Linked DNA regions of Homo sapiens. The protein of the gene in region 4 purifies or fractionates together with the protein of the main gene of each other region. This does not show direct contact. Each region holds a gene or a part of one and is shown on either strand. Other genes may lie near its edges.

The links. Proteins that work in one complex are often made in the same cells at the same time.
Region 1: the proteins of SLC17A9 (region 4) and TKT purify together in Homo sapiens (affinity purification with mass spectrometry; one large-scale study listed by BioGRID and IntAct). This does not show direct contact.
Region 2: the proteins of SLC17A9 (region 4) and CHST11 purify together in Homo sapiens (affinity purification with mass spectrometry; one large-scale study listed by BioGRID and IntAct). This does not show direct contact.
Region 3: the proteins of SLC17A9 (region 4) and NCOA4 purify together in Homo sapiens (affinity purification with mass spectrometry; one large-scale study listed by BioGRID and IntAct). This does not show direct contact.

What each region holds. Positions count from the first base shown.
Region 1 is NC_000003.12:53,239,023-53,242,522, reverse strand, and holds part of TKT (transketolase), read left to right. Parts: intron 1-280; coding exon 281-398; intron 399-1,277; coding exon 1,278-1,391; intron 1,392-2,174; coding exon 2,175-2,272; intron 2,273-3,500. UniProt on the Homo sapiens protein: Catalyzes the transfer of a two-carbon ketol group from a ketose donor to an aldose acceptor, via a covalent intermediate with the cofactor thiamine pyrophosphate.
Region 2 is NC_000012.12:104,455,649-104,459,747, forward strand, and holds the start of CHST11 (carbohydrate sulfotransferase 11), read left to right. Parts: upstream 1-1,299; 5' UTR 1,300-1,763; coding exon 1,764-1,881; intron 1,882-4,099.
Region 3 is NC_000010.11:46,010,124-46,013,623, reverse strand, and holds part of NCOA4 (nuclear receptor coactivator 4), read left to right. Parts: coding exon 1-74; intron 75-597; coding exon 598-741; intron 742-2,417; coding exon 2,418-3,401; intron 3,402-3,500. UniProt on the Homo sapiens protein: Cargo receptor for the autophagic turnover of the iron-binding ferritin complex, playing a central role in iron homeostasis. Acts as an adapter for delivery of ferritin to lysosomes and autophagic degradation of ferritin, a process named ferritinophagy.
Region 4 is NC_000020.11:62,962,709-62,966,208, forward strand, and holds part of SLC17A9 (voltage-gated purine nucleotide uniporter SLC17A9), read left to right. Parts: coding exon 1-46; intron 47-564; coding exon 565-661; intron 662-875; coding exon 876-972; intron 973-1,519; coding exon 1,520-1,607; intron 1,608-2,423; coding exon 2,424-2,458; intron 2,459-2,901; coding exon 2,902-3,017; intron 3,018-3,500. UniProt on the Homo sapiens protein: Voltage-gated ATP nucleotide uniporter that can also transport the purine nucleotides ADP and GTP. Uses the membrane potential as the driving force to control ATP accumulation in lysosomes and secretory vesicles.

The sequences.
Region 1 (3,500 bases), on a different chromosome or scaffold from region 4:
CCAGATATTTTCAGTTGCCGTGATTCTGAGGATCTGATGCCCCTGGAAAGGTACAACAGTCCCCAGCACCCACTAGCTGGCCCAGGCCCCAAACTGCCAGGAGTGGCCTTCTTGAGACCATGTGTCACCCTCCCAGGGAACAAGAGCTCGTGGCTGTCTGATAAGCCAGGCCTGTGTGACTCCTCAGGACATGCACCCCCAGGTCCCTGTACAGCTGAGCACAATAGCTCAGGAGTGCAGGGCCATGATGCCTGTGTCTGTCTTCTCTCCTGGGCCACAGCCACCCCACGTCATGCTGCAGCGCCGCAGAGATCATGGCTGTCCTCTTTTTCCACACCATGCGCTACAAGTCCCAGGACCCCCGGAATCCGCACAATGACCGCTTTGTGCTCTCCAAGGTAAGAGCCCAGCTGCCCACTGCCAGCCACACCTTGCCTGGGACTAGGGTCACACGGGCCCTGGAATGGTGAGTGGTCTTTGAGGAGACCTGGCTGGGCCCACCTCTCCCAGGTGCCTTCTCCCTGCTCGTCCTGGCCTCTCCCTCAGTGTCCTGCTCTGTGCTGACCCAGCTGGCTAAGGAATACAGGACTGAATTGATGGGTTGCTCTGCCATGGAGCCCAGGTACATAAACAACGCTTTAACTCAAAGAAATGGAGTAGGGGACTACGGAAACATCTGTTGTGTGTTCTGCCCAGTCTGGGTGTTGACAGGCAGGACTGGCATCTCGGTCTGGGTTGTGGCTCCCTACCTGCTCTATCTGTGTTGTGCCAGCGCTCCCGAGGCCACGGCTTGCCCCCTCGGGGTGGTGGTGTGCTGTAGCAGGGTTTTGGATGGGGACCCCCTGACCCCCCCCTTCTGGGTGGAATCACAGCCACAGATCCCTGAAATCCACCTGTGCTCAGGCCTGCCTCCGTGGCGTTTGGTCTCTCGGGCAGGCTTTAGAGCTTAGAAGTCTGTCCAAGTTGTTCCCATGCCACAAACCAGGGATTAGGGCAGCCGGCTGCCTGCTGGGGTTTTGGCTTCGTCCAGCCTCACAGCTGTGCCCCCTGCACCTGTCTTAGTGCCTGCCTGGCCTTGGCAGTGGGAACTTTGGGCTGAAAACCAAGAGGCTGAAGAGGGCTGAAAGGGGAGAAGTGGCCTTCACTTGCTTCCTCCCCTGAAATGGATGCTGCAGTTGGCCGGCTCGGCCGGGCCCCAGGGGTCAGTGTGAAGTAGGCACAGCCCGAAGTAGAACCGCTCCCCACCTGACCTCACCCCACCATCCATCTCCCGGCAGGGCCATGCAGCTCCCATCCTCTACGCGGTCTGGGCTGAAGCTGGTTTCCTGGCCGAGGCGGAGCTGCTGAACCTGAGGAAGATCAGCTCCGACTTGGACGGGCACCCGGTCCCGGTAAGTGCTCCTGCCAGAGCCTCCCATGCCTCTGCCTCCACTTCCTATTTCCCAGACATGTGGGACGGGGGTAGGGGGTGCCCACTGAGAAGCCAAAGGTGTTGAAAGGCGGAGGAGGGCATTGAGTTGAGGAAGGAAAGAAGCAGGTGTTTTGGGGACACGTATTCAACCCAAGCTGGTGCCAAAGGGGAAGGCCTTCTGAGGCCTCAGCCAGGGTGCTCTGGGATGACTTCAGGGAGGGCCTCTCCCCAAGCTACCCTTCTGCACTGGGCCTCCTTGGCTAGGTAGCTACAGCTTGGGAAGAGAGGGGACTCGATAAGGGAGTGGCTGCAGGATGCTGGCGAAACCCTGGGGAAGGGACCCAGTTTGTTCCTTGGGGTGCCATCTGGCATCCCTGCAAACGTTAAGACTTCATGGATTACCACAAAAACTGTCACATGGTCTGGGTCCCCACGAGGGGCAAATGTTCTGTCAATTTTTTCATGATTCTCTCTCCCAGCACTTTGTGAAGTGGGTGATGTGGGAACTGAGGCTCACAGAGGTTCAGTCCCTTGCCTGAGGCCTGAGGCCACATAGCTGGCTAGTGGGCAGGGCTGGGATTTGAACCTATAATTATAATTAGTTCATTAGGAGAAGAAGTCACATGCTAGGTAGAGGCCATCCTGGGGCCTGACCTTCTGCAGAGGAAGGGCTTGCTGGGCTGGGTGGGAGTGTGGCTCCCTAGGCGGGTGAGACCAGGATCCCTTCTCCTCTCAGATTAACGGTGGCCTTCTGTTATGACAGAAACAAGCTTTCACCGACGTGGCCACTGGCTCCCTGGGCCAGGGCCTCGGGGCCGCTTGTGGGATGGCCTACACCGGCAAATACTTCGACAAGGCCAGGTAACACACCTACTCCCCACCCCCAACCTGGGTAGTTTTGGGGAGTGGTCCTTGGGTGACCCACCCTTCACCATCGCCCCCAGACTCTTCCTCTTTCCTGGCTAGGGCAGAGTAATACATATGCGTGGCCTCTTTTGCTCTTTAAACATCCGCTATGGCTGGTGCCATGACCGGCCCCCTTTACAAATGAGGAAACACTCAGGAGTTAAGGGACCTGCCCTGGGTCCCTCAGCAGTGACTGGCAGGGCCAGGTTTGCACAGAGTGCGTGCTCTCAATCATGTGCTCTTCAGCCAGAGTGCTTAGGCTGAGGACTTCCTGTTTTGCCCCCAGCCCTGTGCCCAGACCCCAGAAGTCTCAGAAAGACCCACCCCCAGGCCCCTGTCTGACTAGGCACCAGGAGCCCAGGCCTGAGCCACTTGCCTTTATCTTGGTAAAGGGGAGGGTTGTATGTTCTGAGGGGTTCTGGGATACCTGTAAGCCACCTCCTATCAGCAGGGAAGAAACAAACATTTGAGAGATTGAGCCTTCAGAGGGTGGGTGATGAGCCTGACCAGAAAGGTGTGCTGCTCTAGCGCCCACCAGGTGATTTGTAGGAACGGCCCCCCAGGAAGGTTCTAGCCATAAGTTTGTCTGCGGTGGTCAGATATGGCCTGGGGGGATGAGGTTGTAAACTGTTAAGAATAATGGCTGGCTGAGGGAAGGATTGCTTGAGGCCAGGAGTTCCAGACCAGCCTAGGCAACAGAGCAAGACTCTCTCTACAAAAAATACAAAACTTAGCCAGGCATGGTGGTACACACCTGTAGTCCCAGCTACATAGGAGGCTGAGGTGGGAGGATCACTTGAGCCTAGGGCTTCAAGATTATAGCTATACATGATTGAGCCACTGCACCCTAGCCTGGGCTACAGAGCGAGACTCTGCCTCTTTAAAAAAAAAATTATTCTTTTTTTTAAAGAATAATCACTGTATTAGTCTGTTTCCACACTGCTGATAAAGGCATACCCAAGTCTGGGGAAGAAAAAGAGGTCTAATGGACTTACAGTTCCACATGGCTAGGGAGGCCTCACAGTCATGCTGGAAGGTAAGGAGGAACAAGTCACATCTTATGTGGAAGGCGCAGGCAAAGAGAGAGTTTGTGCAGGGAAACTCCCGTTTTTAAAACCATCAGATCTTGTGAGACTTATTCACCATCACGAGAACAGCATGGGGAAGACCTGTCCCCATGATT
Region 2 (4,099 bases), on a different chromosome or scaffold from region 4:
TAATACAGCGCACACCGGCTACATAAATATTGTGCTTTGATTGTCTTCTGTAATCAAAGGCAAGGCTGCTGAGTTTGTTACTTTCCCCACCATGCAACTGCTGGAGGAGAACTCTGGGGGAAGGGAACTGAGGTTGCCCAGGTGGTTTTTGTTGCATGTGTCTAACTGCAAGTTGTGTCTCTGTCTATCGAGGGGAGGATAAGGCCCATTACATTCAGATTCAATAAGAATTTATCAAATGCCTATTTTGTGAGAGGCATTGAAAGACACAGTATCTTATTTCATTTTTAATTGAATTAGTAATGACTTGATAAGGCACAAAGGTTAGTCTAACTAACATTTTTTTTTTCCCTGACATACGAGTGATCCCTACACTATTGGCTGTGTCCACTTTATTGATTGTGAAACAGCCTAAATGCATGGAATTGGAAACTGGAAGTCATTCTACACAATACAAGAAAGCAGCACCATCTTTCCATGTACCTGCCAGTGCTATGGCTGGCTTGGCTTTTCCAGCAGTTTTCTGGACTTGGTTGAGGTGGCTTCCTAGGGGCATTTTCTCACCCCCTCCCAGCTAAGACTGCTGTTAATTTTGAATAATTTGGAGGATGCTCTACCCTTTGGGGTAGCAGAGTTTTGCAACCCACAGATCCCTTTTGCCTTGAGGAATGGTGGTGATGGTGGGTGTCAGAGATTCTGTCTGTATAAGTCCCCGGGAAAGCTCAGCTGTCGCCTGACCCGAGGGTCGTGCAGTTTCCTTAACCCTGACTTTAAGTCAGCCCTCTTTAACCCCGACTCCCAAGCTGGGCTGTCCTTTGAAAGAAAAACGAAACCGCCCAGTTCTGAGCGTCGGAAAATGGGCACTCGCTCCCTGGGGGTTTGGGGCAACTTCCCCGCTACGTCGCCCAGGGATTTTAAATAATTGCCAGCCACCAGAAACCCCCTAACCCTTAATTCTTCCCTCCGAGACCCAGCCCGCTGCTTGCCACTTCCCTCTCCAAACGCTGGCGGGGGTGGGTGGCAGCACCGAGGCGATTTTCTTCGTCTTTTTTTCCTCCGGGTTTTGTCATGGAAACGCTGACACAACCTCCAGACGGCGGCCGAGCCCGGCCGGGGACTGAGGGCTTTTGGGACCCTGCGGGAGCGCGGCGCGCACACCGCACTCCCCGGGCAACAGCTGGACGCGACCATATCCCGGGTAGGGGCGGGGGGAGCGCGACGCTCCGCCCCGGCGCTAGGGTCCCTCCCTCCTCCCGGCTCTCCGCAGGCGCCCTCCCCTCGCCGGGGGCCGCGAGTTGCATTTGGTAAAACCCAGCCCCGGAATATATAGATCGTTGGAGCGCAATGAAGTAGCCTTTGGAGAGAAGGGAGAGGGCCCGTCGGACAGCCACAGCGGCCAGCGCAGCGGCAGCGGCGGCGGCACCACCATCACCGCTCGCACCCCAGCCGCCCGGCCCGCGACCAGGCAGCGGCGGCCGCCGGCGGGATCGGAGGAGGCGGCGGAGCGGCGAGGAGGAGGAGCAGGAGCGCGCAGCCAGCGGGTCCACGCATCTCAGCACTTCCAGACCAACTCCGGCACCTTCCACACCCCTGCCCGGGCTGGGGGCTCCGAGAGCGGCCGCGAAGCGACTCCGATCCTCCCTCTGAGCCTTGCTCAGCTCTGCCCCGCGCCTCCCGGGCTCCGGTCCGCGCGGCGGGGTCCCTGCTCCTGCGCCCCGGGCGCGCTTCCCGGACACCCCGGTCCCCGCAGCCAGGACAAAGCCATGAAGCCAGCGCTGCTGGAAGTGATGAGGATGAACAGAATCTGCCGGATGGTGCTGGCCACTTGCTTGGGATCCTTTATCCTGGTCATCTTCTATTTCCAAAGTATGTTGCACCCAGGTAGGGGGCGCGTTAGCGTGGTTTTGTTGGATATTTTCTTCTCTCTCGCGCTCTAGCTCGCTCCGCCTGATTTCTGCCTCTTCCAACCCTACCTCTCCGCCTTCGGCCTCTTCGGGGCTCCTGGCTGCCCAGAGCTCCTGGCTGCCCAGATCTACCCGGGTCACCGCGTCGGGATGGGGAGGAGAAGGGAAGGTGTGCTTCGCCCTCTTCTTCCTACCGGCTCCGGGCTGGAGGATGGGACCAGGAGGGGCGGTAGTTTTTTTTTTTTTTTTTTTCTTCTTCTTTTTTTCTTTGTGTCCCTTGTCTGTCTGTCTGCGAGGTAGCAGGGAAACGGAGAGGTGTGGGAAGCAACCGGGGGTGAGGGGCTGGTTTGAGGAGAACGAAACTCCCTCCCTGCTGCTGCCGAGGTCGGAGGATGAAAGAGTTACCCGGAGCCGGCTGCTCTGCGCCCGGGCGAGCCGCCTCTTCCTGGTTGCCGGGCCGGGGGCGAAGGGTGTACGCCCCGGCGAGGTTGCGAGTCCCTGCAGCAGGCTGGGAGCCCGGGACTGGGCTCCCACGTGTCCCGGGCTCCGCGCAGAGCTGAGCAGGTGTGGAGAGTGGTCGGGTGCCCAGCGTTGCCCCTCCACCACGCGCCGGCCGTTTGCCCCCGGGGTCCGGCTCCGCAGTGACCTTGCGGCTGGTGCCCCGGGGCCTGCTCCAGCCCCCAGCCCTGAGCTGGAAACTCCGAGCTCCTGGGTCACGCCTTGACCACTGCAGTTTTGGAGGAAACTTTGGCCAGGTCCTGGGCTGACCGTCCGTTTGCATCCCCCACTTCTGGGATCCGAGCAACGGGAATCCCCCGGGCGGCGTGGGAATGAACCCCATTCCTCCGGTCCCTTGTGGCTCAGGCAAAGTTCCACGTCCGAAATCTGGACTGGGGGAGGGACGAGGCTCGTCGCTTCCTAGGGGTGCGAGGGAAAGTTTGGGTTCTGGAGAGGGAGGGGCGCCCTCGAGCGCGGCGGCCGGGGGTGAGCAGCTCGGCTGCGAAGCCCAACAGGTAGAACGTTCCGAGAAGCCTTCCGGGTAACGCGGGTCTCCCCGCCAAGCCGTGGCTCCCCTGCTCCCTTTTACCCTCCCTTAGCAGCCCCCTGCCGGGCCACGTTGGCTCAGAAATCCATTTTCTACGCCTCCGAGTTGCCTTTCTCAGCGTAGTCACAGCAATAATTTGCTTTTCTAATTGCAAGGAGGAGGGAGGTGGAAACGCATTTCCTTCCAGGGAAGTGGGGTTGGTGTTTTTCATTTTTGCCTCCCGCCTTCTCCTTTCACTGTGTATCTAACACTTTAAACAGACGCAGTCCCGAATTCATCAAGCCTGCGTTTGGGTCGATGGCAGAGGAATAAAGCTGTTCTTTCCATCAAACAGGCAGGGCTGCAGGCTGCAGATTCCTTGACAGCGCAGGGACAGACGGCCCCTTTGCCCCACTCGGTCTGGAGCAGTTGTTAAGGCAGCCACACTGCCAAGGATATGGTCCGACTCTACCACATGTAACCTCAGGACGTCCGAGCCAGCCCTGTTAAAGATGGCTTTTGTTTGCAGCTGGGTATTTTTAGTTTAATGTCAGCAAACTACAGCGGTGTTTGTCTCCTCACCCAAACCTGCGGTTGTGAAACTTATAAAGGAATTTAAAAATGGACCTGGCTTGCATTCCGGCAGGCAGGCCTTGGTTGCAGTGGGCAGGGCCAGACAGCCAGGGGTATCTCAGAGTGCCAAGCTCCAGGGCCCACCGGAGACCGGGCCAGACTCACCCCAGAGCGCCAGGGGACTGGTGGTGTACAGATACACTCGGGTTCAAACAGTTTAAACAAGGGGCCGGTGATTTGGTCTAGACTCTAGAGCTGTGTTCAGGTTTCGCTGGGACCGTGAATGCCAGTAATGCTCTGTACGAATGCCCAGAACACGGATGAGTGTCAGCCTTCAGCAGGAATGCGCTTGAGCTTCTGTGTACCTGTTAATTGCCCAGGGAAATACAATTGTCATGGAATTCTTTGTGAGAATTGGGAAATAACTTTCTAGCCAAAGATACTAGAAAGAAACTTCCAACTTGTAATTGTCACTTTGTGAAAATTTCCAGCCCTTGTTAGTCTTAAGTTGACTTGAAAGTGACATCATATCTTTTCAGCCTAGCCTTTTGGAAGAGGCAGAGAACCTTTTCTAAGCTTGTGCTGAAAAAGATCCTCT
Region 3 (3,500 bases), on a different chromosome or scaffold from region 4:
TGATGGCTCATGCTAGTTCAGCAAATATTGGGCCCTTCCTGGAGAAGAGAGGCTGTATCTCCATGCCAGAGCAGGTAAAATATCATTTTGTTTTTGGTAATTGAGTCATTACTTGGCTTATACTTCCTTTGGGTTTTATATAGCATTAAAAAAATGCTACTATTTGTAAAAAGGCACCAGTGGCAATGAGTTAGTTTATGAAATTGAATGCTTCCCTTGAGACCTAATGCCAAATAGAAATTTAGATGTCTTGTCGGGGCTGATTAACAGAAAAAGTAATTATCAATCAGTTCACAGGAAATTATCATTAGCTGTCTTACTGATACTGGTTCTCTGTGAGCGATCCTCTTTATAATTTGTAGAGATGATTTATTTCTAAAGGAATGGCAATGTGAATAAAGGTTTCTATATGTTTTAGTTGAGAAGAGCCCTAGAGATCAGCTGTGTGTCTCTTGTTTTATAATTGTGAAAATTGAGGCTCTTGGAAGGCACATGATTTGCCCAGGGTCAGTGGCAAGCCAAGATTAGAGAGTGGCTCTTCTCTTTTTCTGGTGAACTTTCTACTGCATTTGACATTCCTTGTTTTGTGATTAACAGAAGTCAGCATCCGGTATTGTAGCTGTCCCTTTCAGCGAATGGCTCCTTGGAAGCAAACCTGCCAGTGGTTATCAAGCTCCTTACATACCCAGCACCGACCCCCAGGACTGGCTTACCCAAAAGCAGACCTTGGAGAACAGTCAGGTCTGTTGCTGCTTTTATTGTTTCTACAGTAGACACAGCAGTAGGTGGAGTTAGTTACTAATCAGTAGTACTATGTGTCATTGTTAACTTTTTGGTTGCAGTCTGGAAACATATTTATTAATAGTCTCTTCATCATAGAAAGTTTAGAAAATAAGGAACTCTTTATCATAGAAAATTTTAAAAATAAAGAATTTTATATTAAAAAAGCCCACAAACCCATAATCTCAACACAAAGAGAAAAACACTGTAACAATAAAAGTGAAGTATTTATATACTTCAGTTTTCTATACATACATATTTTAAAAGAACCATTCTGTAAGTCCTGTTTCGGTAGGTAGATTTTTTTTTTCACCAGGATAACATTAACATATTTCTCTGTCATTTAATTTCTTCTGTAAAGTATTTAGTAGTATATAATTGATTGGCTGTAATTTAAATTCAAGTTTTTCTGGATATAAAAAAGGATTCCCTAAACATCCAGGAGCCAATTATTTGTGTGCATTCTTGATTAGTTCCTTAGGAGTACATTTATAGAAATTGCATTCCTAGATTATAATTCTGCTTACGCTTTAAGACTTTGGATACATATTGCCAATTTGGCTTCCCAGGAAGTTGCCAACAGTTTATAGTCTCACCAGCAGAATATTCAGGGTACCTGCTTCCCTGAAACCTAAGAGTAATAGTCATTTAGGTTTTTTGCTCTGAATTTGACACAAAATAGCAATTTTGCTTTTGTTTTTTCTTCCATTAGTAAGGAGGTTGAGTATTTTCTTTTTTCGTTTTTTTTTTTTTTTTTTTTTTTTTTTTTTTTTCTTTCTTTTTGAGACCGAGTCTTGCTCTGTCTCCCAGGCTGGAGTGTAGTAGTGGGATCTCGGCTCACTGCAAGCTCCGTCCTGCGGGTTCATGCCATTCTCCTGCCTCAGCCTCCTGAGTAGCTGGGATTACAGGCGCTTGCCACCACACCCTGCTAATTTTTTGCATATTTTTTATTTTTTAGTAGATACGGGGTTTCACCCGTGTTAGCCAGGATGGTCTCTATCTGACCTTGTGATCTGCCTGCCTCGGCCTCCCAAAGTGCTGGGATTACAGGCGTGAACCACCGTACCCGGCCAAGTATTTTCATGTTTATTAGGCTTCTTTGATGACTTGCCTGATCATATCCTTTGCTTATTTTTTGTGCTTTATTTGTAAAGGCATATTACACCCTTTTCTATCAGATAAGAGTATCTAAATAGAGAAATCCCTTGCCTTTTGGCTTTGTGTACTTAAATTTCAAAACACTGGGCAAGACAGTAAATATGCAGACAGGGCCGGGCGTGGTGGCTCACGCCTGTAATCCCAGTACTTTGGGAGGCTGAGGTGGGCGGATCACGAGGTCAGGAGATCGAGACCATCCTGGCTAACACGGTGAAACCCCGTCTCTACTAAAAATACAAAAAAAAAAAAAATTAGCTGGGCGTGGTGGTGGGCGCCTATAGTCCCAGCTACTCGGAAGGCTGAGGCAGGAGAATGGCGTGAAGCTGGGAGGCAGAGCTTGCAGTGAGCTGAGATTGTGCCACCGCACTCCAGCCTGGGCGACAGAGTGAGACTGTCTCAAAAAAAGAAAAAGTGCAGACAGAATCTCCAAAGCAGTCATAATTGTTCTGGCAAACTAATACTGTGTACTTTTTGTGTAGACTTCTTCCAGAGCCTGCAATTTCTTCAATAATGTCGGGGGAAACCTAAAGGGCTTAGAAAACTGGCTCCTCAAGAGTGAAAAATCAAGTTATCAAAAGTGTAACAGCCATTCCACTACTAGTTCTTTCTCCATTGAAATGGAAAAGGTTGGAGATCAAGAGCTTCCTGATCAAGATGAGATGGACCTATCAGATTGGCTAGTGACTCCCCAGGAATCCCATAAGCTGCGGAAGCCTGAGAATGGCAGTCGTGAAACCAGTGAGAAGTTTAAGCTCTTATTCCAGTCCTATAATGTGAATGATTGGCTTGTCAAGACTGACTCCTGTACCAACTGTCAGGGAAACCAGCCCAAAGGTGTGGAGATTGAAAACCTGGGCAATCTGAAGTGCCTGAATGACCACTTGGAGGCCAAGAAACCATTGTCCACCCCCAGCATGGTTACAGAGGATTGGCTTGTCCAGAACCATCAGGACCCATGTAAGGTAGAGGAGGTGTGCAGAGCCAATGAGCCCTGCACAAGCTTTGCAGAGTGTGTGTGTGATGAGAATTGTGAGAAGGAGGCTCTGTATAAGTGGCTTCTGAAGAAAGAAGGAAAGGATAAAAATGGGATGCCTGTGGAACCCAAACCTGAGCCTGAGAAGCATAAAGATTCCCTGAATATGTGGCTCTGTCCTAGAAAAGAAGTAATAGAACAAACTAAAGCACCAAAGGCAATGACTCCTTCTAGAATTGCTGATTCCTTCCAAGTCATAAAGAACAGCCCCTTGTCGGAGTGGCTTATCAGGCCCCCATACAAAGAAGGAAGTCCCAAGGAAGTGCCTGGTACTGAAGACAGAGCTGGCAAACAGAAGTTTAAAAGCCCCATGAATACTTCCTGGTGTTCCTTTAACACAGCTGACTGGGTCCTGCCAGGAAAGAAGATGGGCAACCTCAGCCAGTTATCTTCTGGAGAAGACAAGTGGCTGCTTCGAAAGAAGGCCCAGGTGAGCATAAACATCAAAATAGCACTGGTTTGAGTTTTATTTATTTATTCATTTATTTTGAGATGGGGTCTCTGTCACTCAGGCTGGAGTGCAGTGGTG
Region 4 (3,500 bases):
TTGCTTTGGGTGTGGTACGTGTACAGGTACCTGCTGAGTGAAAAAGGTAACGCAGGCCGGGCGGGCTAGTCCCGGGCGCCCACAGCTGCCCAGTGCCTCCTCCCCTGGTGGCAGCCGCTGAGCAGCCTGGAGCAGGAGCCCGGAGACGATGGCTTTGACCTCCCAAAGAATCCGCCAGTGAGGAAAAGCGCTCGGGTGCTGAGCTGTCAGCGGCTCCGCCACCCAATTCGATCTGGAAGGTTCCATCTAGGGCTAAGGCAGACACCCAGGAAGACCTGCTGGGCACAGGTCAAGGCAGGGTGCAGGAGCAGCCGAGTCTTTGGGTGGCCAGGGGGCTCTGGAGGAGGCCGTGTGGAGGGTCGTTCAGAACGCGGTTCTCAAAGGTGATGCTGCCTGTTAGGTGTCTGGTAGGGGAGGCCAAGGGAGGCTGGCGCCCATGTGCAACCTGAGGCATGGACGAGGCCTGCTGACCCCTCTGGAACCACCCCCAAATCCCCAATCCTTTGGCAACGGGTGGCGCCTCCCGCCCTGATAGCCATCAGTTTGAAACCGTTGCTCCCTCAGATCTCATCCTGGCCTTGGGTGTCCTGGCCCAAAGCCGGCCGGTGTCCAGGCACAACAGAGTCCCCTGGAGACGGCTCTTCCGGAAGCCTGCTGTCTGGTGAGCTGGGACCTGTGCCACCCCTTGGAGCAGCGGCAGGGCCGGTGACCATGGGGGTGTGAACCTGGCCGGACCTGACAGCCCTTGAGCCAGCAGGGCCTAGGGCTCAGAGAAGTGGGACTCTGGCCCCCAGGGGACGCCTCTCGGGGTGGGTCCCACAGGCCCGGCCAGCTCGTGCGGCACCAGAGTCACGGTCCACCATTGGGCCCCGCAGGGCAGCCGTCGTCTCCCAGCTCTCTGCAGCCTGCTCCTTCTTCATCCTCCTCTCCTGGCTGCCCACCTTCTTCGAGGAGACCTTCCCCGACGCCAAGGTGAGTCGGGGGCTCCCGCAGGGTGAAGGAGCGCCCAGAAGGCACGAGGCTTGAGCTGCACCAGGCACTGTGGGTCCTTGGCCTGCAGATGGTGGAACCCTCGGCTCCTCCTGGACTCTGAGGGTCCTGGCACTGCCAGGCTCTTCCTCTGGAGAGGACCCCGTCCATGCTCGGGGCAGGTTTCTGTGTTTGAGGCTGGAAATGATGCGGGCGCTCGGTGCCTTCCTGCTGCGGCTGCAGCCCTCCCAGCCCTCATCGTGACCTGCTGGCCCACAGAACCCGACTTCAGAGCCTGAGGAGGCCGGTGCAGAAGCCGGGATGTGGACAGAGGGGTCACCTGCGGTCAGCACGGTTCCTTCTCTGAGGCTGTCTTGCTGCCCTGCCGGGTGGTGGTCAAGAGCTGCACATTCCCAGGAGCAGGGCTGGCCCTGCCGGAGAGCTTTCCTGGGCAGTGGTGGGCACGGGGGCGCTGTCCAGCCTGAGTATCCTCTTCCAGATGGCCAGATGCCGGCCCTGGCCCCCTCTAAGGCCAAACTCCCCCCTGCAGGGCTGGATCTTCAACGTGGTTCCTTGGTTGGTGGCGATTCCGGCCAGTCTATTCAGCGGGTTTCTCTCTGATCATCTCATCAATCAGGGTGAGCCCCAGGGAGGGGACCGGGGCTGGAAGCCACACCCTGGTTCACCTCGCTTTCGAGGGGCAGGATGCTCCCATCCTGGGGCTGCAGCTTCAGCACACGGAGAGCTGGGACAGAGGGGCACTTCTTTCCAGGCTCGGCCTCCTCCTTAAAGGGTGGGGTTAGACTGTGGTGGAGGGTCTGGTCTCACGGTGACTGTGGAGCTCACCCCTGGGGGCTGGATGCAGCCCCTGACCCTCCAGGAAGGCACCTGGAGGGGTCAGAGGTTACAAGCATCCTTGAACCTTTGGAAGAGCTTCTGTCTTTGTTCCATGTGCTCCAGACCCACGCTGGGATGAGCCCCGAGCGGGCTGCGTGTTTCTTCCCCTAGTGCAGTGTCCGCTGCACAGACACGTACAGGCGGATGCACACGCGTGCCCACATGCTCTCTCCACACGTGTGCCTATTCTTAGAATGTTCGTGTTTTTCCTAATTGCAAAAGGAATACACACTCGTTGTGGAAAAGCTAGAAAATCTGGAGCAGCAGAGGAAGTGGGGCCGCTCGCCTGTTTCCGCCTCTGTAACTGCTGTGTGGCTGTTCTGTGTTTCTGCCCAAACCCACGCCTTGGGAACCTTCCAAAGGCGCACATGCGGCCTCGCGGCTGCACCCCACATGCGTGTGTGCACACGTTTTTGCCTGCAGCACGGGATAGCTGTCTTGAGCCCCAAGCCTCTTCCTCCCCTGCTGCCCCTCTGCAGCCATTCGGGATGGGACCCCCTCTGGGGTGTCAGCACGAAAGGGCTAACGGGAGCCCCTTCCTTGGCCTCCCCCTGTAGGTTACAGAGCCATCACGGTGCGGAAGCTCATGCAGGTAGGAGAATCATTCCGGTCGTTCTCTCTGGATATCCCTGCTTTGTTCAGGGTCTCCCAGGAACTCAGGGTTGTGTCCCCAAGTCACCTGATATCTGGGACCAGGCAAATGCCAGGCCTCTCCATGTGTCCAGCACTGGGGCCCAGAAGGGGCTGTTTAGACAGCTGTTGGGGGGAAGGCTGGGGTCAGCATCCTGTGCCCCTCTGGGCCCAGGCCTGAGCTTGCCCACGTCGAATAGGGCCTCTCCCTTGGAGCGGGGCTGATTCTTGCGGAGACTCCTCCCAGACCTCCTCTAGGGGGCCTGGTCTGAGAGAAGTTTGTGGTCGCAGCCAACCTGACCGTTGTGCGGTGCGCCCAGGGGGGCTTTCGGGCAGCTGAGTCAGGAGAGGGCCCTGCTGCAGGCGGGCTGGGTGCCTCTCCGTCACGGTGGCGCTTTCCTGCAGGGCATGGGCCTTGGCCTCTCCAGCGTCTTTGCTCTGTGCCTGGGCCACACCTCCAGCTTCTGTGAGTCTGTGGTCTTTGCATCAGCCTCCATCGGCCTCCAGACCTTCAACCACAGGTGAGGGCCGACTGCTCCATCCACCAGAGCGCCGTGCTGCCCGCACGGCCGAGGCCCGCACATGTGAAGAGGGAGCTCTGTCCGCCTCTCTCAGTCTCTTCCTCACACTTCACCCCCTTCCCAAGCTGCTGGGCAGTGACTGCACTGAAGACCCAGTAGTTCTTTAGGAACCAGCAATTCACTTCAGTGAGCAGCACGTGCGCGTGATTTGTGCGAACATGCTTTCCCCACAGCACTTTACTCTAAGGAGTCGCTTCCTGCACTGGGTCCTCCATGAAGACGGGCAGCTGGGGCTCGGGTTGGCATGGTGTGCAGGGCTGCAGTGCTCTGGCCAGTGGGTGGTTGGGGCTCGGGTTGGCGTGGTGTGCAGGGCTGCAGTGCTCTGGCCAGTGGGTGGTTGGGGCTCGGGTTGGCATGGTGTGCAGGGCTGCAGTGCTCTGGCCAGTGGGTGGTTGGGGCTCGGGTTGGCGTGGTGTGCAGGGC